3 separate regions of the Homo sapiens genome follow, and all the other regions are linked to region 1. The links come from fine-mapping of genetic effects on gene expression. A gene starts in region 1. Each other region holds a variant in brackets. All regions are shown on one strand. Distances are from middle to middle.

Region 1 (8,177 bases):
TAGGCTGGAGTGCAGTGGCGTGATGTCGGCTCACTGCATCCTTGACCTTCCAGGCTCAGGTGATTATCCCTTAGCCTCCTGAGTAGCTGGGACTACAGGCAATTGCCACCACACCCGGCTAATTTTTTGTATTTTTAGTAGAGGCGGGGTTTTGCTATGTTGCCCAGGCTGGTCTGGAACTCCTGGAATCCAGCAGTCCGCCTACCTCAGCCTCCCAGAGTGCTGGGATTACAGGCGTGAACTACCATGCCTGGCCCAAAATATAGTAATTATTGATTACTGAAAAAGTCAAATCCTAGAAAACGCAGCATTCTTACATGTGATGTTAACATCGTTCTTGAACAGTTTTTAGCCTAAGATTCATTTGAGGAGTCTGATTTTTCCAAAATAGTTCTGATTATTCAGATGATTCTGAAATAACTCCAAGAACAGTTTTTATATTTTATTTTCACGTTGAAAATCAGTCAGATTTGCTTCAGCCTCAAAGAGCATGTTTATGTAAAATTAAATGAGGGCTGGCAGTGAGCTATATTTTTTCTACATGGGAAAGGGGTTAAGACTCTTCGGCCAGGCATGTTGGCTCACGCCTGTAATCCCAGCACTTTGGGAGGCCAAAGCAGGCAGATCACTTGAGGCCAGGAGTTCGAGACCAGCCTGGGCAACATGGCAAAACCCTGTGTCTACTAAAAGAAATACAAAAATTAACCGGTCATGTAGTTCCAGCTACTAGGGAGGCTGAGGTAGGAGGATCGCTTGAGCTCAAGAGGTTGAGGCTATAGTTGGCCTTGAGTGTGCCACTGCATTCCAGCCTGGGCGACAGTGAGACCCTGTCTCAAAAAAAAAACAAAACAAAAAACAAAACCACAAACAAAAAACTTTGGTAAATACAGTTACATTAACTATTTAAAAAAAAAAAACCATCGAGGGCCAGATTTGGTCTCTGTGCCAGAGTTTGCTGACTGCTGCTCTAGAACATTTAGGAACTGGCTTCTTAGAGCTTTTTCTGTCCAGAGAGAAACCAACTTTTATCTGCTTTGTATTTTCAAAGATCTGAACTCCCCCACCCTTCCCTGTCTTCTCTTTACAGATCAACTTCCAGCCAGACCCAGCCAGGCACAGGCTGGGTCCAGTTCTGACCTGAGCACGGTTTTTCCTCATGTGACTTCTGGGAAGGCGCTCCCTCATCTGGGCCAAAGGAAGGAGGACGAAGCCCTCCTCAGCTGGCCTGTGTTTGGGGCATGAATCTCTCCTCTCCTCCTTGTCTGGCTCTGTTGACAAACCGGGCATGTTTGGCAGTAAATTGGCACCGTGTCACACTGTTTCCTGGGATTCAAGTATGCAACCAGAACACAGGAGAAGAAAAGCTCCAGGATCCCTGTCCCCATCTGTCCTCTTGATGTGAGAGAGACTCTGAGACTTCTTCCATCGCAATGACCTGTATTAAACACAAGCCCCCCAAGCAAAAGAAGAGGTTGAGTTTGCTGCCAGGATTCAGATCAGCCCTTCCCAGGGTCTGCAGGTGTCACATGATCACAGTTCAGCGGGAGGCTTTCCGTACCCACACTGGCTGTAGCCACTTCAGTCCATCTGCCCTCCAGAGGAGGGGTTTCTTCCTGATTTTTAGCAGGTTTAGAGGCTGCAGCTTGAGCTACAATCAGGAGGGAAATTGGAAGGATTAGCAGCTTTTAAAAATGTTTAAATATTTTGCTTTGCTAATGTGCTGATCCGCACTAACTCATCTTTGCAAAAGGAACTGCTCCCTCGGCGTGCCCCAGCTGGGGCCTCTGAAGGGATTCCTCACTGTGGGCAGCTGCCCTGAGCTTCAGGCAGCAGTGTTTATCTCTGGCCAGTTGTCTGGTTTCCATGTATTCTAGGCCAGGTAGGCAACACAGAGCCAAGGCGGGTGCTGGAAGCCAGACGGAACAGTGTTGGGGCAGGAAGGTGGATGCTGTTGTCATGGAGCTGTGGGAGTTGGCACTCTGTCTGCTGGTGGCCCTCTCGGCTCACATGTTCACAGTGCAGCTCCTGGCAGACTTGGGTTTTCTCTTTGGTGGTTTCTAAAGTGCCTTATCTGCAAACAACTTCTTTTCTCCTTCAGGAACTGTGAATGGCTAGAAGAAGGAGCTCAGTAAACTAGAAGTCCAGGGTTGCTTGGTTTACTGGTTTATAAGAAATCTGAAAGCACCTCTGACATTCCTTTTATTAACTCACCTCTCAGTTGAAAGATTTCTTCTTTGAAAGGTCAAGACCGTGAACTGAAAAAAGTGTTGGCCTTTTTGCGGGACCAGATTTTTAAGATAAAATAAATATTTTTACTTCTGTCATTGTATGTGAAAGATGAATGTGTTTCTGGCCGCGTGGCTGTTAAACTCTTCAGGGTGCCACAGCTAGACTCACGGCCACTTCTCTCACCACTGACCAAGTGTCCAGATTGAAAGTTCAGGGCTGGGGTGTGAGGCTGGCCAAAGTGAGGAAATGCAACCTTGTTGTCTAAGGCAATCGGTACCTTCTCTCCTGTGTTCTCTAGGATAGTACAGTCTTTTCATCATCCTTTGGTTGATGTGAAAGTAGTTGCTTGAATCACTTTGTGTGGGGCTTAATTCTCTTGTGGCGTCTCATGATACAGGCCGTTCTAGAGAGCCTGGCCCCTTGCTTTCCGTCTTCCACCAAACCTACCGGCAGAGCATCTCCCTAAGTAGTAAAGGGGTGCAGATACCCAGAGGTCAAAAGTAAAATTAAGAGGCCGGGTGCAGTGGCTCACGCCTGTAATCCCAGCACTTTGAGAGGCCAAGACGGGAGGATCATTTGAGGCTGGGAGTTTGGGACCAGCCTGGGCAACATAGTAAGATGCATTTCTTTCCTTTTTTTTGAGACACAGTCTCAGTCTGTTGCCCTGGCTGGAGTGCAGTGGAGCAATCTTGGTCACTACAACCTCCGCCTCCCAGGTTAAAGTGATTCTCCTACCTCAACCTTTCCAGTAGCTGAGATTACAGGCACCTACCACACCGAGCTAATTTTTGTATTTTTTCAGTAGAGATGGGGTTTCACCATGCTGGCCAGGCTGGTCTCAAACTCCTGACCTCAAGTTATCTGCCCGCCTTGGCCTCCCAAAGTGCTGGGATTATAGGCGTGAGCCACGGCACCCGGCTGTTAGACCCCATTTCTTAAAAAAAAAAAAAAAAAAAAAAATTAGTGTGGTGGTGGTGCATGCTTGGAATCCTAACTACTTGCGAGGCTGAGGTGGGAGAATTGCTTGAGCCCAGGAGTTTGAGGCTGCAGTGAGCTATGATCACGGCCTCGCACTCCAGTCTAGGCAGCAGTGAGACCCTAGAGAATTCTCTAAAAGAATTAAAAATGAAAAAAAGCCACAACACTTCTTTTGCCTGAGGATTCTGTAAGAAGCAGTTTTTATTGTTATGGAAATAGCCACTCTGATTAAGAAACTGTAGAGAGGAGAAAGAAAATGAAAATTGAAGATTCTCTTGCCCATTGAATTAAGGGTAAGGAGATTGCATTAAAGGATCTTCGGGAGCAGTAACTTTTTTATGTCGATTTCACATAGCATTACTTCACATCGAGTCAGTTTTAAGTACTTGGAGGGTGGAAATCAGAAAGCTTAGATGTAGAGGAAGCTTTATTAGAAGTGTGTACCATGGCTGGGTGTGGTGGCTCATGCCCACAATCCCAGCACTTTGGGAGGCCGAAGTGGGTGGCTTACTTGAGGTTAGGAGTTCGAGACCAGCCTGGCGAACATGGTGAAACCCCGTCTACTAAAAATACAACAATTAGCCAGGCATGGTGGCGCACGCCTGTAATCCCAGCTACTTGAGAAGCTGAGGCATGAGAATTGCCTCCAGGAAGTGGAGGTTGCAGTGAGCTGAGATCATGCCACTGTACTCTAGCCTGGGCAACAGAGCAAGACTGTCTCAAAAGGAAAAAAAAAAAAAGTATGTACCATTGAAGATCAGCACTTGGATTGTGGAGACAGACCTGGCCTTAGGATCTAGGCTATCCCCTGGTTAGACGTGTGGCCACAGGCTGTTCCTTCACCTGAGCGTCACTCGGATGAGGCACTAGCAGATGCACATTGCATTGTTTGACCTTAATGACCTTTCTCTGGAGTCAGGTAAGTACCCAGAACAGTTCATCATGGTAGGGAGGAGGAGGTGGCACAGCTGATGACACAGCCCTCAGGAATCTAGCCTGAAAAGCACCTTGTGGGGTCTGGGGCCAGGAGCAAGGGACAGCTTGATGCTGTCCATCACTAACTGGAATCCCAGCTGGAAAAAACTCATTACAGGACCAGAATCTCCAGGAAAACTCAATCCCAAACCAGGCATCACTTCAATTACACCCCTGACTGGAGTTTACAAACTGGTGGGTGGATGGTAGAAGATGGCTGCTTTCTTGGGGGGTATGCTAGACCTCACTTGCCCTCTGCACAACAGAATTTGGATGCACTGGGAGGTGTGGCAGATAGACTCCCAGGTGGTCACTGTGATCCCCACCTGCTGTTCACAGCCTTATGTACTCCCTGCCCCTTGAGATGGCCTAGACCTGTGACTGCTAACCAGTAGAGTGCCACAAAGGTGACAAGATGTTATTTTCATGGTTGCCTTATGTAAGACTGCAACATCTGCCTTGCTGAGAAATTCTCTTGCTGGCTTTGAAGAAGGAAGCTGTCATGTTGTGTGAGCTGCCCTTGGGAGAGGGTCAGGTGGCTAGGAACTGAGGTAGCCTCTGACAGCCAACAAGAAACTGAAGCTCAGTCCAGCAGTCTGCAAGAAAGCAAATGCTGCCAGCAACCACACAAGCTTGGAGGCTGATCACTCCCAGGTAAGCCTTCAGGTGAGACCCCAGGCCTGACCAACACTGACTGCAGCCTTGCAGAGGACCAGCTAAGCTGTGCCCAGACTGTCCCATAGGAACAGATGGTAAATGTATTGTGTTAAGTCGCTAAGTTTCTGGTAAGGTTATGCAGCAATAGATAACCAACACAAAGGTTAGCAAAGTGTGTTTGAGGTGGGAATCAGTGTGGAAAAGAGAGAATCTGGATAGACTTAATAGCTGTAGGGCCTTGGGAGGTCCCTTATGATGCTCCTTTGGGCCTTCCTGTTGCCTTTAAGTAATGCTTATTGTTTATTGCTAAAGTAATGCTTAACTCTCTGCTAGGCACTATTCTATGCACTTATAAAACTCATTGCATCATCTCTACAACCCCATGAGGTAAGGACTTGTTTTTTTTGTGTTTTGAGACAGTCTCGCTCTGTGGCCCAGGCTGGAATGCAGTGGCATGATCTCAGCTCACTGCAACCTCTGCCTCCTGCGTTCAAGCAGTTCTTCTGCCTCAGCCTCCGAGTAGTTGTGATTACAGACGTGTGCCAGTACTTCCGGCTAATTTTTTTGATTTTTAGTAGAGACGGGGTTTCATCATGTTGGCCAGGCTGGTCTCAAATTCCTGACCTCAAGTGATCAGCCTGCCTTGGCCTCCTAAAATGCTGGGATTACAAGTGTGAGCCACCGCACCTGGCCAGTAAGTACTTGTTTTAGTCTATTTGGGACTATGACAGAATAACATAGCCTGGGTAGTTTATAAACAAAAGAAATTTTTTGCTCACAGTTCTGGAGGCTGGGAAGTCCAAGGCACCAGCAGATTCGGTGTCTGGTGAGGCCGTCTTTTTGCTGTAACCTCACATGGTAGAAGGGGCAATAGAGTACTCTGGGGACTTTTTTTTTTTTTTTTTTTTTTTTTTAAGAGATGGAGTCTTGCTATATTGACCAGGCTGATCTCAAACTCCTGGCCTCAAGTGATCCTCCTGCTTTGGCCGCCCAAAGTGCTGGGCTTAAAGGCATGAGCCACCACATGGGAATGGCACTGCCTTTTTTTTTTTTAAAGATAGTTTTGCTCTTATTGCCCAGGCTGGAGTGTGATCTTGGCTCACTATAACCTCTGCCTGTTGGGTTCAAGCAATTCTCCTGCCTTAGCCTCCCAAGTAGCTGGGACTACAGGCACATGCCACCACGCCCAGCTAATTTTTGTATTTTTAGTCAAGATGGTGTTTTGCCTTATTGGCCAGGCTGGTCTCAAACTCCTGACCTCATGATCCACCTGCCTCAGCCTCCCAAAGTGCTGGGATTATAGGCGTGAGCCACCACACCTGGCTGGGGCTTCCTTATAAGGGCAATACTGTTTGTGAGGGCTCTACGCTTATGACATAATTACCTTCCAAAGAACTCACCTCCAAATACCATCATACTAGGGGTTAGGTTTCAGTATGAATTTGGAGGTGGGGGTGGACACAAATGTTTATAGCAGTACTCATCCCTGTTTCGAAAATGAGAAATGCAGAGAAATTATATAATTTGTTCAAAGTCACATGGTTGGTAAGTGGCAGAGCTGGGATTTGAACCCAGGCAGTCTGGCTCCAGCATCCATGCTTTTAGTCAGGGTGGCTACTTCTTTGGAGCAGTGCTCCCTGCAAAGCCTGGCACATAAGACCCCCTTAATATATGAAAAGTCCCATTCCCTCCACATGGCTTACGAAAGCCGTGGCAAGTAGGAATGACAGGCGAAGGGTGGGGCTTTATTCCATTGGTGATTGAAAGCTACTGAAATGCATCATGGGCACACAGTAGGTGCTTAATAGTTGTCGATTTCTATGAGCTGGGAGTGAGAAAGATACCATGCTCTGTGGACTGAGTGGACTGGAGTAGGGAAAAGACCAATTTTTCCTCACCGCAGCTTGAATGTAGACAGATACTGTTTTTTTTTTTTTTTCTTTTTTTTTTTTTTTTTTTTTTAGCCAACCATACAAAGCCTGTAAGTAGGTACTTTATTTATTTGTATTTTTATTTTTTTTTGAGACAGATTTTCACTCTTGTTGCCCAGGCTAGAGTGCAATGGTGCAATCTTAGCTCACTGCAACCTCCACCTCCCAGGTTTAAGCGATTCTCCTGCCTCAGCCTCCCAAGTAGCTGGGATTACAGGCTTCCGCCACCATGCCTGGCTAATTTTTGTATTTTTAGTAGAGACAAGGTTTCATCCTGTTGGCCAGGCTGGTCTCAAACTCCTGACCTCAGGTGATCCGCCTACCTCAGCCTCCCAAAGTGCTGGGATTACAGGCATGAGCCACCACACCCGCCCAAAATGACCTGCATTTGTCATCTCCGCTTCTGTGGTCAGGAATCTGGTGCAGCTCAGCTGGGTCACAGGCCTCTCACAGGCTGCAGTCAAGGTGTCAGTCGAGGCCGCACTGTCATCTTAAGGCCCAGCAGGGAAAGCGTTTGCTTCCAAGCTCGCTCACGTGGTTTTGGGCATGATTCTGTTCCTCGTGGCTGTTGGACAGAGGTCACTCTCATTTTCTTTCCACGTAGGCCTCTGCATAGTTCACATCTTTGCAGTTGCTTCATTGAAGCCAGCAAACGTGATTGTGGCAAGATAGCAGTCATAGTTTTAATTCCAGAAATGATCCCATCCCTTGGCTGGGTCTTCAGAGTAGAAGTCACAAGTCCTGTCCGCACTAAGTGGAGGGTGTGGATACCAGGAGGCAAGGATCATTGAGAGCCATCTTAGAAGTCTACCTGGCCGGGGTGCAGTGGCTCACGCCTGTAATCCCAGCACTCTGAGAGGCTGAGGTGGGCCGATCACGAGGCCAACAGATGAAGACCATCCGGGCCAACAAGGTGAAACCCCGCCTCTTCTAAAAATTAGCTGGGCGTGGTGGAATGCGCCTGTAGTCCCAGCTACTCGGGGGGCTGAGGCAGGAGAATCACTTGAACCCAGGAGGCAGAGGTTGCAGTGAGCCGAGATTGTGCCACTGCACTCCAGCCTGGCAACAAAGCAAGACTTCGTCTCAAAACAAGTCTACCTGTGTATTAGCTTGCTAGGGCTGCTGTAACAAGTGACCACACACTGGGTGCTTTAAACCACCTGAATGTATTTATTCTCTCCCAGTTCTAGAGGCTGGACATCTGAAATCAAGATGCCAGTAGGGCCATGCTCCTTCCAGAGGGTCTAGGCCAGAATCCTTGCCACTTCAGGCTTCTGGTGGCCCCGAGCATTCCTTGGTGTGTGGCAGCATCACGCCAATCTCTGCCTCCTCCCTGTGTTTCCATGTGTGTCCTCTCCTTTCCTTATTAGGATGCCCATCATTGGATTTAGGCCCCACCCTAAATCC
Region 2 (8,177 bases), 33 kb after region 1:
GCAGGGCAGGTGGAGGGCAGGGGCAGGCCTGCCCCTGCCCCACCCTGGCACCCACCCTTAGCCGCTGCTGCTCCAGCTCTCCGGATCTCTCCAGCAGCTGCTGCTCCAGCTCCGAGTACCTCTTCTTGTACTGGAGAATGTGGGGATGGGGAGCTGATGGTGACCCCCATGGGTGGGGGCAGGGCAAAATGAACATGTGGGAGGGCAGGAGCAGGAGTGGGTGGCCCTGACCTTGCCCTGCAGCCGCTGCACACAAGCTGGGCCTGCCGCTGCTGGCCCTCCAGGTAGGCCTGCAGCTTGCGCTGGTAGGAGGCCTGCTCCTCCTGTAGCTGCCTCTGCAACTCCAGGCTCTGGGGTGGGGGCTGAGGAGGGAGGGGATGGAAAAGGACAGGAGAGGAGGGAAGCAGAGGTGGGGAGCCAAAGGAAGAGGAAGGATGAAGAGAGGGGAGGAGAAGGGAGAGAAAGGGAGGGAGGAGAGAGAAGAGGGAATGGGGGGAGGAAAGGAGGGGAGGCAGCTGGAGGTCAGGACCTCACACACTCTTCACCCTCCGCAGGTTGTTGGGTCCTAGAGCCCTCCAAGCCCAGGGGGTGGGGTCAGTAGCCACGTAGTGCGAAAGGCCAGAGTCCTAAGTATTTGGGATCATCTTTGCTGGCCCAGAACGGGGGTCACAAGGTTAGCTAAGAATGAGAGGATTTACGTTTTCCCACAACAGGTGTAGGGCAAAGAATGCAGGCTGTGAGATCAGCCAGGCCAGGCTTGGCACTTAGTTGGGCATGAGCGGTCCAGCCTGGACTGATGAGCATTTATGCAACACCTGCAGCATTCCTAGGTCTGACCTAGACAGAGTGGTAGAGCCTCGAACTACAAATGCCCTAGCCTTGCCCTTCAGGCACTTATTGGGAAGCTTCTGGCCCCTTCACACCCACCCCAGCCCCTACTAGCTGGGTGCACCAGGGACAGTGACTCTGCCTCTCTCTGAGACTCAGTGTCCTCTTACGTAAGATGTGAATAATATTGGTACTCACCTCACAGAGCTGTCCGGGGATGAAACAGAATATCGTGTGTGCATAACCAGCACATGACACGGTGCCGGGGGGACACACGGTCAACACTCAAGAAATACTCATTTCCTTCATTTGAAAATGCAAAAGGCACAGTCCTGCCAGGCATGGGCACTCACACCTGTAATCTCAGCATTTTGGGAGGCCAAGGCAGGCGGATCACCTGAGGTCAGGAGTTCGAGACCAGCCTGATCAATATGGCGAAACCCCATCTCCACCAAAAATACAAAAATTAGCCGGGTGTGGTGGCACATGCCTGTAATCCCAGCTACTTGGGAGGCTGAGGCAGGAGAATCAATTGAACCTGGGAGGCGGAGGTTGCAGTGAGCTGAGATCATGCCATTGCACTCCAGCCTGGGCAACAAGAGCGAAACTTTGTCTCAAAAAAAAAAAAAAAAAAAAGGCACAGTCCCTATATCCCAGGGCCCTGAGACCCAGAGGTCACCCACAACCTCCCATTGTTCTTTCCCTGGGGCAAGGAGGCTATGTGCTCTAGTGCTTAGGCGCACAGCTCTGGAGTCAGTATCAGGTCTGAGGTTGCATCTGAGACCCAGCTCTGTCACTTGCAACTATGGTCTTCAAGACAGTTCATGACCTTGAACAGGTTACCTCCCTGAGCCTCAGTTTTCTCATCTCTAAAAGGAGACTAGACCAGGCCAGGCGCAGTGGCTCAAGCCTGTAATTCCAGCACTTTGGGAGGCTGAGGCGGGCAGATCACTTGAGGTCAGGAGTTCGAGACCAGCCTGGCCAACATAGTGAAACTCCATCTCTACTAAAAATACAAAAATTAGTCTGTAATCCCAGCACTTTGGGAGGCCAAAGTGGGCAGATCACGAGGTCAAGAGATTGAGACCATCCTGGCCAACATGGTGAAACCCCGTCTCTACTAAAAATACAAAAATTAGCTGGGCATGTTGGTGCATGCCTGTAGTCCCAGCTACTTGTGAGGCTGAGTCAGGAGAATCGCTTGAACCTTGAAGCTGACTGTGGCATTAAAGACATCAGTTAGCTTGTCTGTTGTTCCCAGAATACCAGCCCAGTAGTGGGAGGGCCTACCTTGTTCACCTCCCTATCACTCGCATTTTGAGTGTCACCAACCCATGCCCACAGTTCCCTGGAAGATCGCTATGGTTACCGAGCAGAGGCACGGAGGAAGCCCCAAGAGGCCACACTGCAATGAGCGGAGATCACACCACTGCACTCCAGCCTGGCAACAGAGTAAGACTCTGTCTCAAAAAATAAATAAATAAATAAATAAATAAATAAATAAATAAATAAATAAATTAGCTGGGGCGTGGTGGCATGTGCATATAATCCCAGCTACTCAGGAGGCTGAGGCAGGGGAATCACTTGAACCCAGGAGGAGGAGGTTGCAGTGAGCCAAGATTGTGCCACAGTACTCCAGCCTGGGTTACAGAGCAAGACTCTGTCTCAAAAAAATAAAATAAAATAAAATAAAATGATACTAGACTGGGTGTGGTGGTTCAGGTCTGTAACCCCAGCACTTTGGGAGGCCAAAATGGGAGAATCGCTTGAGCCCAGGAGTTTGAGACCAGCCTGGGCAACATAGCGAGACTCTGTCCTACCAAAAACAACAAAAAAATGCGACTGATAGTACCTACCACACCTGGCAGGTGGTGAGCTATTAGCCAATGGTGGCTGCTGTTCCTATTGTCATTAGCATCACGTGTCTGGCCTCCTGCCCTTAGAGTTGTAAGCCCTGAAAAAGGACAGGAATTGCTCACTCGAGGAGCTCGGCTTTTAAGACACAAGTCTCCTGAAGTTCCCGGCCGAATAAAGCTCCTTCCTTCTTTAACCTGGTGACTGAGGAGTTTTGCCTGCGGCTCGTCCTGCTACACTGCTATGCCTCAGCCCTTGACCTCTGGGTGCCCGCTGCTCCATGCTGTGCCCCAAAGGGGGCATATTCACATTATCTCATTAAATCCTTACTTCAACCCATTTCCAGATGAGAAAACTGAGGCTCAGAGAGATTGGGCTCTCACCTATTCAAGGCGACATGCTTCAGGGAAGTGGTGAGCCCAAAGCTCATTCCACTTAGACCAGCAGCCTCCCAATGAGTGACTGAAGGGCAAGGCCGAGGCATTTGTGCTTTGAGGCTCTACTTCTGTATCCAGGTCAGACCCAGAATGCCACGGTGCTGTATAAATGCTCATCAGTCCAGGCTGGACCGCTCATGCCCAACTAAGGAACCTGCCCTGCAAATGGAAAACCAAGAAACAGGGCCAAAAAGATAAATGTTGCCAAGTTGCAATGGCAAGCAAGCCAGATTTGGGCAAAACCAAACCAGCCACTGGCCAGGTGCGGTGGCTCATGCCTGTAATCCCAACACTGGGAGGCCAAGGCAGGTGGATCGCTTGAGGTCAGGAATTCTAGACCAGCCTGGCCAATGTGGTGAAACCCCGTCTCTACTAAAAATACAGAAATTAGCTGGGCATGGTGGTGGGTGCCTGTAGTCCCAACTACTCGGGAAGCTGAGGCACAAGAACCACTTGAAACTGGGAGGTAGAGGTTTTGGTGAGCTGAGATCGCACCACTGCACTCCAGCCTGGGTGACAGAGAGAGACTCTGTCTCAAAAAAAAAAAAAAAAAAGAAAACTAATCCAGCCAGCAGCATAGAGCTGCCACTACAAA[C/A]CCCAGGGACGCCCACTCTTCTACCTCTAGGCAGCCTCCAAAAATCCCCTCTACAGGTTGCACACCTGCCCACCAGAGCAGGGGGGAAGCCACAAATACCCCTGGACCAGCATGTCCAGCCCTGCATGCCTAGCTCAGCAGAGGGGGCCCCAGATGTCCTTGAGGGACTGAACTCAATTATTCTGTGCCTTCTCCTGACCACAGTCCTAAGGGTTGGGGGAAGGAGACAGGATGTCAGCCCCTGGCACCAGGTGACACCCACCCTTGGCTCCATCCCCAAAGTTCTCCCCCAGAGTCCTGCTGGGTTCTGTGGGTCCCAGGAAGTCATATCTGAACCCCGTGTATATGTCCACTGCTTCCACCCAATTCTCCAAAAAAAAAAAAAAAAAAATGACTGAATTCCTCTTAGAAATCTGGATGCTAACAGCTTCAGCATCTGGCCACCTGGACTCCAATCTTGGCTCACCAGCCCCTCACCAGCTGTGTGACCCTGCACCAGTGTCTTCACTTCTCTGAGCTTCAGTTTCCTCATCTGCAAAATGGGATAATAATGGTGCCTGTTTCTAGCATGAGCATTAAATAAAATACTCCGTGCTAAGCTATATGCCTGGATATGGTGTGGCAGAAACTGCAATGTGCTCACCACAAAGCATTTCCGATTCCTCTTAGGAATATGGCTAAAAGCCATTTCCCAGACTCCCTTGCAGTCAGATACGGCCATGTGGTCAAGTTCTGGTCCATAGAATTAAGACAGAAAGACAGCGTGCCACTTTAGGCTTGGTCCATAAAATTATTTCTCTCCTTCCTGGTCCATCAGCTAGAAGGAAATAACTCCAAGGTCCTAGGGGATGCCGCAACCACAAGACAGAAGGGATCTCGGTCCCTGGGTCGCCACATAGAAAGCCACCTGCCAAACACCCAACAGGGCTTTTCATGAATGAGAAATAAACTTCTATTGCGCTAAGCCTCTGAGAATTCAGGGTTTCACTATCACATTAGCTAGTGTTACCTTAATTACTACCTGCAGTTCAACAGCGGGTAAGTGTTGGCTATTACTACTGTTATCATTACTATCATGAGTATTATTGGCTCTTTCTAGTCCCCAAGCTAGAACCCTGTGCCTTGTTCTAGATGCTGAGACATTATTTGGTGACCAAATACAGAGGAGACACCCTTTGTACCCTTCCCTCCCCACTACCACCCTCCAAACTTGCCTTTTGCCAGGGCTAGCGGCAGGAACTAGCCAAAAAGCCCCTCAAAGATTACTCGTTTCAAACATAGCAGCTGCTCTTATCCGCTTACCCCTTCATTATCCTCCTGCTGCTGACTAGAAATTATGACAAAAATATTGAACCAACCACGAGCCAGGCCCTGTGCCCAAAACGTTACATCTGTCCCTTACCTGCTTTAACACTCCTGGCACCACCCTACTCACTTTACAGATGACAGCGTGAAGTCTCAGTGAAGTTAAATAATTGGCTCCAATGCACCCAGCCACAAAGAGCTCAAGTCACAGCCGCGACCTAGGTGTGCCTGATTCCAAAGGGTTTTTGTTTTTTGTTTGTTTGTTTTGTTTTGTTTTGTTTTTGAGATGGAGTCTCACTCTGTCACCCAGTCTGGAGTGCAATGGCACAATCTCGGCTCACTGCAACCTCCGCCTCCTGGGCTCAAGCAATTCTCCTACCTCAGCCTCCTGAGTAGCTGGGATTACAGGTATGCGCCACCGCGCCCAGCTAATTTTTGTATTTTTAGTAGAGACAGGGTTTCACCATGTTGGCCAGGCTGGTCTCAAACTCCTGACCTCAAGTGATCTACCCGCCTCGGCCTCTCAAAGTGCTGGGATTATAGGCATGAGCCACTGCGCCCAGCCCAGAGTTTTAAATAATAACAGCAAGCCGGGTGCAGTGACTCACACCTGTGGTCCCAACACTTTGGGAGGCTGAGGTAGGAGGATTGCTTGAGCCCAGGAGTTTGAGACCAGCCCTGGCAACATAGTGAGAATCCATCTCTACCAAAAAAAAAATACAAAAAATTGGCCTGGCATGGTGGCATGCACCTCCTGTAGTCCCAGTTCCTTGAGAGGCTGAGGCAGGAGGATTGCTTGAGCCTGGAAGGTTGAGGCTGCAATGAGCCATGGTTGTGTCACTGCACTCTAGCCTGGGTGATAGAGCAAGACCCTGTCTCAAATAAACAAAACCAGTAACGGCAATGACTTCCATCCTGCAGCGCCTGCTGTGTACCTGGCACCACCCCAGGACGCCGATGTGTATTATATAAGCCACTGCCTGGACTGCTGAGATGGCTCCCCGAGGGTCTCTATGCTTCCTGCTCATCCCCTCACCCACTCAAGTTTCACACAGTAAAGGTCATATCCCTCCCCTACCCAAGGCCCTCTACTAGCCCTTACCGCACCTAAAATGAAGTTCAAAGTCCTTCCATGGCCCACAGGGCCCACCAGATCTGGTCCCACTCCACTTCTCCCACCTCATCTCCTTTTTTTTTTTCTTTTTTTTTTTTTTTTGAGGCAGAGTCTTGCTCTGTTGCCCACGCTGGAGCTAGAGTGCAGTAATGCACGATCTCTGCTCACTGCAACCTCTGCCTCCTGGGTTCAAGCAATTCTCCTACCTCAGCCTCCCGAGTAGCTGGGATTATAGGCATGAACCACCATGCCCAGCTAATTTTTGCATTTTTAGTAGAGATGAGGTTTCACTGTATTGGCCAGGCTGGTCTTAAACTCCTGACCTCAAGTGATCCACCCACCTTGGCCTCCCAAAGTGCTGGGATTACAGGTGTGAGCCACCACACCCGGCTGCTCATGGCCTTCTTGATTCCTCAAACACCAGGCATGCACCCACCTCTGGGCCTTTGCACTGCCACTTTCTCTGCCTGGGACGCTCTTCCCTCTTCCTTTGCACAGCTGACTCCCCCGCTTGTCGGCCAGATTTTTGCTCAAAAGTATCACCTTCTGAGGGACCTACCCCTGACTCTCAGCTAAAGAGGTCCCTCCAGTGGCTGTTCCGTTTTCTCCAACATGTATGTTGTCTGTCTCCTCCTTTTTTTTTTCTTTGAGACAGGGTCTTGCTCTGTTGTCCAGGCTGGAGTGCAGTGGCAAAATCATGGCTCACTGCAGCCTTGACCTCCTGGGCTTAAGGGAGGCCCAGGAGGGGGGGCCTTTGGGAGGCCACCTCAGCCTCCTGAGTAGCTGGGACCACAGGTGCATGCCACCATGCCTGGCTAATTTTTTACTTGTTGTAGAGATGAGATGTTGCCCAGGCTAGTCTCCAACTCCTGGGCTCAAGCCGTTCTCCCACCTCAGCCTCCCAAAGTGCCAGGTTGGCTTAGTTCACTGCCACTTCCACAGTGCATGGGCTAAGGCCAAAGCTCCATGAAGAGCTGCTGAATGAATTAATGAATGCTAAGAGCCAAGGACACCAGCGAACACATATCCAGCATCTGCCGCATCCCAGAAGTTCAGGGTGAAAACCAGGGAGTGACCCCCACAGGGGCCACCTGGGTGGAAAGGGGGCCTCCCCTCCTAGGGCTGAAAGACTGGGGAGGGGAGGGTTAAGTCAGGGAAATGTGCGCGGGTGGGGAGCCTCCGAGATCCAGGGGTTGACTCCTGGAGTCGTGCCTGAACCTCGCTGTCCTCTGCTCCCGCCACAAGATCTGTTTATTAAGCACCTGCTGTGAGCCCAGCGAAAGAAAACAGAAATCTCTGTTTTCTGGCGTAAACAGACAGATGGCACCCTGAAGGCCCCCTCCCCAGGGTCCCCATTCCCCAGTCAATCGTCTTCCCAAGGGAGCTGTGACCTGGTCACCAGAGGGGCAGACATCCGCCCCAGCACGGTCGTCAGGCTTAAGTCTGTGTGAAAATCAGGAGGGAGCTCGTTCAAAATGCCCACTCCAGAGACGCTGCCGGGCACAGGGGCCTGAGGCCCCATGGTGAGAGGCGCAAGGGGTGCAGGGCCCCATCCCCGCACAGCATCCGGCGGCCCTGCCTCCGTGGCCAGCCCAACCGCGCGCTCTGGGCCTCAGTTTACCCATCCGCACAATGGAGATGCTTCCGACTCGGCAGGGTTGCAATGAAGACGAAACCGCGTCCCACACTAGGAGGGCAGTGCAGGGCGGGGCCCGCACGCAGGAGCTGCAGAGGGCATCTGCGAGGGGTAGCGGCCGTCGCGAGGGCCTCCCACGGCCGCCCGCGGAGCGAGGGGACCCCGACCGGCGGAGGGACGGCTGCGCCCTGCAGGCCGCTGCGCCCAGGCAGGCCTCTGCGCCCGGGCAGGCCTCGGCCTCCTGTCGCGCCCCCGGCCCGCGACAATCCGGGCAGGATGGGCGGCAGGACGCGGAGGGGCATCTGCGGAGCCCGTCGGGAACGCCCTCTTGGCTTCCGGTGCCGGGCAGCGGCGGGCGCGGCGCCCACAGCGCCCCTAGCCCCGGGACATGGCTCCAGCCCGCCCCCA
Region 3 (8,177 bases), 36 kb before region 1:
AGCCACGACGGACATTGGGGGCATTGCTTCCTGAGAGCTGTCCCCATGTCCCCCTGGGCTGGGCTCTGGCGGAGCCTCCTGTGGCCTGATGTGTGGGACACCTGCCTCCTTGGGGTGCTTGCCTCCCAGTGGCTGGCCATGGCTGGCCAAGCGGCAGCAAGGCTCTGCTGGCTGCACCATGTCTGCCTGGTGACTGGGGGTGGATTGATATCCGGAGCCCTGTCAAGGACAAGGACACCACGGCTGGGGAGCTCCATCCTCGTTCCCAGGTGAACCTCAATGCTCCAGGCGAACTGGAGACCAGTTATTACACACTTACTAGGGTCCCAGCACTTCAGGCATCATCTTACTTAATTCTCCTAGTGCCCCTAGAAGGTAGCACAGGTACTCCCACATTTTGAAGGGTGAGGAAATTGAAGCCCAGAGAAGGCGTGGCCTACCCAAAGAACCACACTTCCCTATGGGAGTGGAATGAGAGCCTGGAAAATTGAGAAGATCCCCTTTAAATAGGGTTTTCCTTTGTGTGTGTGTGTATTTTTTTTTTTTTTTGAGACAAGTCTCACTCTGTCACCCAGGCTGGAGTGCAGTGGCAAGAACACAGCTCATTGTAGCCTTGACCTCCTGAGCTCAAGGGATCCCCCTGCTTCAGCCTCCCAAGTAGCTGGGACTACAAATACCTGTCACCACGCCTGGCTGATATTTTTTAATTTTTGGTAGAGATGAGGTCTCACTATGTTGCTCAGGCTGGTCTTGAACTCCTGGGCTCAAGCATTCCTCCTGCCTCAGCCTCCCAAAGTGCTGGGATTACAGGCATCAGTCACCATGCTCAGCCTTAATGGGATTTTCCAAGGGATACTTCAAAGAACAAGAATCCTTCATGAGCCTCCTTAAAAAGAGGAGGTTTTGGCCAGGTGTGGTGGTTCACACCTGCAATCCCAGAATTTTGGGAGGCTGAGGGGCAGGTGGATCACTTGAAGTCAGGAATTCATGACCAGCCTGGCCAACATGGAGAAATTCTGTCTCTACACAAAATTAGCTACGCATGGTGGCTCATGTCTGTAATCCCAGCTATTTGGGAGGTTGAGGGACGAGAATCACTTGAACCCAGGAGGTGGAGGTTGCAGTAAGCCATGATCACACCACTGCACTCCAGCCTGGGCGACAGAGTGAGACTCTGTCTCTTGAAAAAAAATAATAAAGGCCTAAGTGGGTGGATCACACGAGATTAGGAGTTCAGGACCAGCCTGGCCAACATGGTGAAACCCTGTCTCTACTAAAAACACAAAAATTAGCTGGGCGTGGTGGTACGTGCCTGTAATCCCAGCCACTCAGGAGGCTGAGGTGGGAGGATCACTTGAACCCAGGAGGTGGAGGTTGCAGTGACCCAAGATCACACCCCTGCACTCCAGCCTGGGCAACAGGGTGAGACTCCATGTCAAAAAAAAAAAAAAAAAAAAAGTGGTATATTATGGTATATCCATAGAATGGAAATATTACTGAGCAACCAAAAGAACAACATGTTGATACACACAATACATGAATTTCTTTCTCTTTCTCTCTCTCCTTTTTTTTTTTTTTTTTTTTTGGAGACAGAGTCTCACTCTGTTCTCCAGGCTGGAGTGCACTGGCATGATCTCAGCTCACTGCAACCTCCGCCTCCCAGGTTCAAGTGATTCTCCTGCCTCAGCCTCCCGAGTAGCTGGGACTACAGGCACCTGCCACCATGCCCAGCTAATGTTTATATTTTTAGTAGAGACGGGGTTTCACCAGGTTGGCCAAGCTGGTCTTGAACTCCTGACCTCAGGTGATTCACCCGCCTCAGCCTCCCAGAGTGCTGGGATTACAGGCTGAGCCACCGCACCCGACCTAGATGAATCTCAAATAGTCATGTGGAGTGAACGAAGCCAGACAGAAAGAATGTACACTGTACAATTTCATTTGTGTAAAATTCCACGAAATACAAACAAATCTATAGTGATAGTTGGTAGTCGCCTGGGGATAGACTAGTGGGAGGGGGGATGAGAAAGGGCATGAGGAAATGGTTGGGGTGATGGCTATGTTTGCTTTCTTGATTGTGGGGATGGTTTTGTGGGTGTGTACATATGTCAAAATATTAAATTGTACACTTAAAGTATGTGCAAGTGAATGCCAATTATACCTTACTGAAGCTGTTAAAAATAAATCTTACCAGGCTGGGTGCGGTGGCTCACACCTGTAATCCCAGCACTTTGGGAGGCTGAGGCAGGAGAATGGCATGAACCTGGGAGGCAGAGCTTGCAGTGAGCCGAGATTGCGCCACTGCACTCCAGCCTGGGCGACAGAGCAAGACTGTCTCAAAAAAAAAAAAAATCTTACAGATAAATAAAAAAAGATCTTGTGGTCAAATAAGTTTGGGAAAGGCAATATACTCTAACCATATCTTTTTAAAATTTTTTATTTATTTTTTTATTTTTATTTTTTTTGAGACAGGGTTTCACTCTGTCACCCAGGCTGGAGCACAGTGGTGTGATCTTGGCTCACTGCAGCCTGGACCCCAGGCTCAGGGGATCCTCCCATCTCAGTATCTGGAGTAGCTGGGGCCACAGACATGTGCCACCACATCCAGCTAACTTTGGTATTTTTTGTAGGAACGGGGTTTCACCATGTTGCCCTGATCTCAAACTCCTGGGCTCAAGCAATCCTCCCACCTCAGCCTCCCAAAGTGCTGGGATTACAAGCACGAGCCACGGCGCCTGGCCTCTAATCATATCTTGCAAAATCTTACAAAGGCTCAGCAGCTAGTAAACTGCTTCCAGGATATCCTAGCATACAGAAACCTGTTTCAGCTTTGTTAAACTCAGCATGTCCCAATATTATCTGTATACAGAACCTGGCACCTCCTCCCTCCCCCCTGCACCCATTGACATACCGTGGGGCCACTCTGGAAACAAGACTTATTTTTATTTTATTTTTATTTTTTTGAGACGGAGTTTTGCTCTCATTGCCCTGGTTGGAGTGCAATGGCGCGATCTCAGCTCACTGCAACCTCCACCTCCCGTGTTCAAGCAATTCTCCTGCCTCGGCCTCTTGAGTAGCTGGGATTACAGGCATGTGCCACCACACCCGGCTAATTTTATATTTTTTAGTAGAGACAGGGTTTTACCATGTTGGCCAGGCTGGTCTTGACCTCAGGTGATCTGCCTCCTTCGGCCTCCAGAAGTGCTGGGATTAACAGGCGTGAGCCACCATGCCCGGCCTGGAAACAAGACTTAAATGCTTGTGATGTAGGCTGGGGGAATAGCCCAGTGACCCACAGACTGAGTGCTTGACATCTTCAGGGCACAGAGGTGAGCAAACATTCTGTCACCCAGGCTGGAGTGCAGTGGCCTGAACATAGCTCATTGTAGCCTTGACCTCCTGGGCTCAAGGGATCACCCCTGCCTCAGCCTCCCAAGTAGCTGGGACTACAGATACATGCACCAGAATGGGGGGCATGATAGGAGGGGGGCTCTTTCACCTCCTCTGTGGTAGGTCATTCCATACCCTTCTCCCCAGATCTCCTAGGTTACCTGGCAGCTCTCAGGAGGCTGATCCTCCCCGATTCCCCGGTTCCGTTGCCTCCCCTGCTGGCCCTTGATCTCCTTTCCGGAGCCCAGCTGCTGCAGCCCTTCAGGTACTTCAGGAACCCAGGAAGGCAGCAACCCCAGCTCACTCTGATCCTGGCCTGCTTGCAGCTCCTGGGACCCTTCCTGGGGGACCCAAGAGGGCTGTTTCTTCCTGGGGAAAATAGACAAAGTGACACTTTAGCTCCCAGACTGGGGCACTGTTTTATATATTTTTACAGGGCTAGGCATACCATAGGTGCATAGCTAACGCCTGGAAGGACCAATGAAGGACTCACAGGAATTCCCCAAATCATAGACACTTTGATGTCAATGTTTGGGGGAGTTAAAATTTAAACTTTCACAATTATTTGTAGAGACAAGGTCTCTCTGTGTTGCCCAGGCTGGTCTTGAACTCCTGGGCTCAAGCAATCTTCGACCTCGGCCTCCCAAAGTGCTGGGATTAGAGGTACGTGCCATTGCATCCAGCCTAGAATTTAAGTTTTATAGTATTTTTAAACTGTTTTTCAGAAAAAAATGAAACAAAAATCAGAACTGGGATGCAGAGAGGACAAGAGATTTGAGCCTAAG[G/C]TCATAAAGCTAAAGATAACTGTTCAAAATTTGAAGCTGTGTCTATCCGATCTCACTTTAGTATTCTGGAGTATTTCCTCCAAGCTTCTTCCTATGCGTATGCATACTTATTTATTTATTTATTTATTTGAGACAGAGTCTTGCTCTGTCACCCAGGTTCGAGTGTAGTGGCATGATCTCAGCTCACTGCAACCTCCACTTCCTGGGCTCAAGCAATCCTCCCGCCTTAGCCTCCCAAGTAGCTGGGACTACAGGCATATGCCACCATGCCTGGCCAATCTTCATATTTTTTGTAGAGATGGGGTTTCACCATGTTGTCCAGGTTGGTCTTGAACTCCTGGGCTTAAGTGATCCGCCAACCTCAACTTCCCAAAGTGTTGAGATTACAGGCGTGAACCATGGTGCCCGGCTATATATATATATATATATATATTTTTTTTTTTTTTTTTTGAGACAGAATTTTGCTCTTGTTGCCCAGGCTGGAGTGCAGTGGAGTGATCTTGGCTCACTGCAACCTCTGCCTCCTGGGTTCAAGTGATTCTCCTGCCTCAGCCTCCCAAGTAGCTGGGATTACAGGCATGTGCCACCATGCCCAGCTAGTTTTATATTTTTAGTAGAGATGGGGTTTTGCCATGTTGGCCAGACTGGTTTTAAACCCCTGACCTCAGGTAATCCACCTGCCTTGGCCTCCCAAAGTGCTGGGATTACAGGTGTGAGCCACTGTGCCCGGCCTAATGTACTTTTTTCAATTAACATCATAGCCTGTGTTTTTCGCATGCTAAAAATCCTTCAGAAACATGCTTTATATGTTTTCTTATGTTCATTAAATGTATAAAATTCCATATTTTAAAGATAACCATCATTAACCATTTCCCTATTGTGTGGGCGCTTAAGGGGTTTCTAATTTTTTAGTATTTAAGATAATGTGACAGTGAAAGTCTTTGTGCATAAAACTGCTTGAATCACCAATTATTTCCTCATGGCCTATTTCCAGAAATGGGTGAGGATAAAGGGAGTTTCAAGGCAGTTTAAACAAATTGCCACGTTGATGAAACAGGTATGCTTAAATGGTTTCTATTTCCACCGGCATGGTATGCAGTAGTTGTCTCAGTGGGCCTCGGACCTGGCTTGAGTTGTCTCTCCTAACTTTTCTTGTAGAGGAGGCTATTTAGGAGCTTCTGGTTATAGTCAAATCCAACTAAGCCAGCTAGTCTTTACTATTTCTATTATCCCAGCCTTTCACTTTGCCTCTATCTGGCTCGCTCTTGATTTTCTCTTTTTGAATACATTCTTGCTGTAGAAAAGTTTTAAAAAAACACAAAATTTAGAAAACAATTACGTGTACATCTTTACATGTTCCTGTGTCTCCTAACCTTTTTTTGTTCATTATTCTATTAATTCAGTGAATCAATATTTATCGAACATTTACTATGTGTCAGGCATAGTACTAGGCATGAGGGCTTTGAGGTTGAACCAGGTATATGATGCTCCTCAAACAAGACACATAAAAGATGTTTGTGGTCTCGTTGGGGGAGTTCAGACAAAAGGTTAACATGAACTCTTTAGTGCAACTGGTGCAATGAAAGAGAAGGACAAGGTGCTGTCGTGGGTGGAGCTGCCTTGGCCTGGGAGTTCTCCATTCTCTCTCTCTCCCCCGCGGGTGGGCTACAGGGGGTTCTCTCTTGGACCTGTTCTCTCGAGAGCCCCTCAGCTCACCCTGGTCTTGCTGGAGGCCCCTGCTCCTGGATTCTGAGCTCTGAAGGCCCCTTCTCAAATGCATCTCTGAGTCTGGGCCCCTTCTCTGGCCCTCGTGAAGCTGATGAGAGGTGCTTCTTGCTGCCCACTTCCGAAGCATCCGGAAACATGACCTGGACAGAGATATCCATGGCAGTGGCTTGAGGGCTGGCATTGAGTACCCGTTCTGGAGTGATCCCTCCCACTCCTCCCTGGGTACTCTTCTGGCCTCAAGGACAGGGAGATCCTGTGCCTGATTGGGGAAGCTGTTGGAGAGGGGTGAGCAGGAGCTGAGAGGCAGGGATGCAGGGCCCGGCCCTGCTGTTGCTGTTGCTTAGCACGTAAGGCTCTGGTATGAACTGGAGTCCAGATTAGTACCCGAGACAAGGGGATTGCCTTAAGGACAGCTTGAAAGAGCACCCTGGGGGACCCCAAGACTCTCACAAGGTCCAAGAGACGCCTTCAACAATTCCCATGCCTTCAAAACGCAGGCTCTAGTTTGAACTGAGTTTTTATTTCATTTTTTGAGAGAGAGTTTCCCTCCTTTGCCCAGGCTGGAGTGCAGTGGCACAGTCTCGGCTCACTGCAACTTCCACCTGCTGGGTTCAAGCGATTCTTGTGCCTCAGCTTCCCGAGTAGGTGGGATTACAGGTGTGCGCCACCATGCCCAACTAATTTTTTTTTTTTATTTTTTTTGTAGGCCAGGCTGGTCTCGAACTTCTGACCTCAAGTGATCCGTCTGCCTCAGCCTCCCAAAGTGCTGGGATTACAGGCATGAGGCACCGCACCTGGCCTGAACTGGGTTTTGATCACTATCATGGTCTGTCACTCTCCAACTGGGTGACCTGGAGCCAGTGACTGAGACCCCGCTCCAAGCATCACCGGAGTCAGCAAACTCCAAACAAATGGACTTAATTAACTCATTGACATTGATATAATACAAGATTCTGATGTGAGCTAATACTAACAGGCACCTACTATGAGACAGGGCCTGTGCTAGGTGCCTTAGTCAACACCGTAAAACAAATGAGGCTGCAAGGGGTGCAGTGACAGGCCCAACATCACACAGCTGGGTAAGTGGTGGGACTGGGACCCCATGACGGTGCTTGTTGAAAAAATAAATGGGTGGATGAAGGAAGCCCTGAATGTTCACCTCTAGCCTCTCTCCTAGCCTCCTCCCCTCCAGGCCCTCTCCCTGCCCCAGGGGAAGTGAGGATTTATAACAGAGGCTACAGGGAACATACCCAAGGGCATGTTGACTTTTTATTTTTTTTTTTGGCTTTTTTTTTCTTTTCCTTTTTGTGGAGAACGGGGTCTCGCTATATTGCCCAGGCAGGCCTCGAACTCCTGGACTCAAGCTCTCCTCCCGCCTCTGCCTCCCTAAGAGCTGGGATCACAGGCGTGAGCCACCGCGCCTGGCTTTGTTTTTTTTTTGAGACGGGGTCTCACGATGTTGCCCAGGCTGGTCTTTAACTCCTGGGATCAAGCAATCCACCTATCTCTGCCTCCCAAAGTATTGGGAGCAGGCGTGAGCCATGGCACCTGGCTGACTTTTTATTTTATTGTATTGTATTTTATTTATTTGTTTGTTTGTTTGTTTATTTATTTTTGAGATGGAGTTTCACTCTTGTTGCCCAGGCTGGAGTGCAATGGTGCAATCTCCGCTCACCGCAACCTCCACCTCCCAGGTTCAAGCGATTCTCCTGCCTCAGCCTCCCAAGTTGCTGGGATTACAGGCATGCACCACCATGCCAGGCTAATTTTGTATTTTTAGTAGAGACTGGGTTTCTCCATGTTGGTCAGGCTGGTCTTGAACTCCCGACCTCAGGTGATCCACCCGCCTCGGCCTCCCAAAGTGCTGGGATTACAGGCGTGAGCCACCGCGCCCGGCTGGCTGACTTTTTAAATGGTGATATCTTTGGCCCTGAGGAAACTGGATGGTGAGGAGGGTCTTCTTTATGCTCTTCAGTTCATGCTACTTGGCACATTCAAAAAGAGGCCAGTGGGGCGCAGTGGCTCACGCCTGTAATCCTAACATTTTGGGAGGCCGAGGTGGGCGGATCACTTGGGGTCAGGAGTTCAAGACCAGCCTGTCCAACATGGTGAAATCCCATCTCTTCTAAAAATACAAAAAAAATTAGACGGAAATCATTTGAACCCAGGAGGCAGAGGTTGCAGTGAGCCATGATCACACCATTGCACTCCAGCCTGGGTGACAGCAAGACTCTATCTCAAAAAAAAAAAAAAAAAAAAAAAAAAGAAGATGCCGGA

What was found. PIP is the estimated chance that this variant, and not a neighbour inherited with it, causes the effect.
Region 2: its variant is fine-mapped to the expression of LINC01772 in monocytes (TOPMed, PIP above 0.99).
Region 3: its variant is fine-mapped to the expression of LINC01772 in whole blood (TOPMed, PIP 0.99).

The regions. Positions count from the first base shown.
Region 1 is chr1:16,457,755-16,465,931 of GRCh38, forward strand. LINC01772 (long intergenic non-protein coding RNA 1772) reads left to right here and starts at 3,194. Exons shown (of 2, transcript NR_147210.1): 1 at 3,194-5,533. NECAP2 (NECAP endocytosis associated 2) reads left to right here. Exons shown (of 8, transcript NM_018090.5): 8 at 1,088-2,324. The coding sequence ends at 1,136.
Region 2 is chr1:16,490,955-16,499,131 of GRCh38, forward strand. It overlaps the pseudogene CROCCP3. Among named protein-coding and RNA genes, the nearest start is that of RNU1-1, 19 kb to the right of the region's middle. RefSeq lists enhancers at 1-116, 117-760 and a silencer at 7,884-8,177. The variant C/A (reference allele first, on the strand shown) is at 3,715.
Region 3 is chr1:16,421,976-16,430,152 of GRCh38, forward strand. All of the region lies in intron 3 of SPATA21 (spermatogenesis associated 21), which reads right to left. Among named protein-coding and RNA genes, the nearest start is that of SPATA21, 11 kb to the right of the region's middle. The variant G/C (reference allele first, on the strand shown) is at 4,173.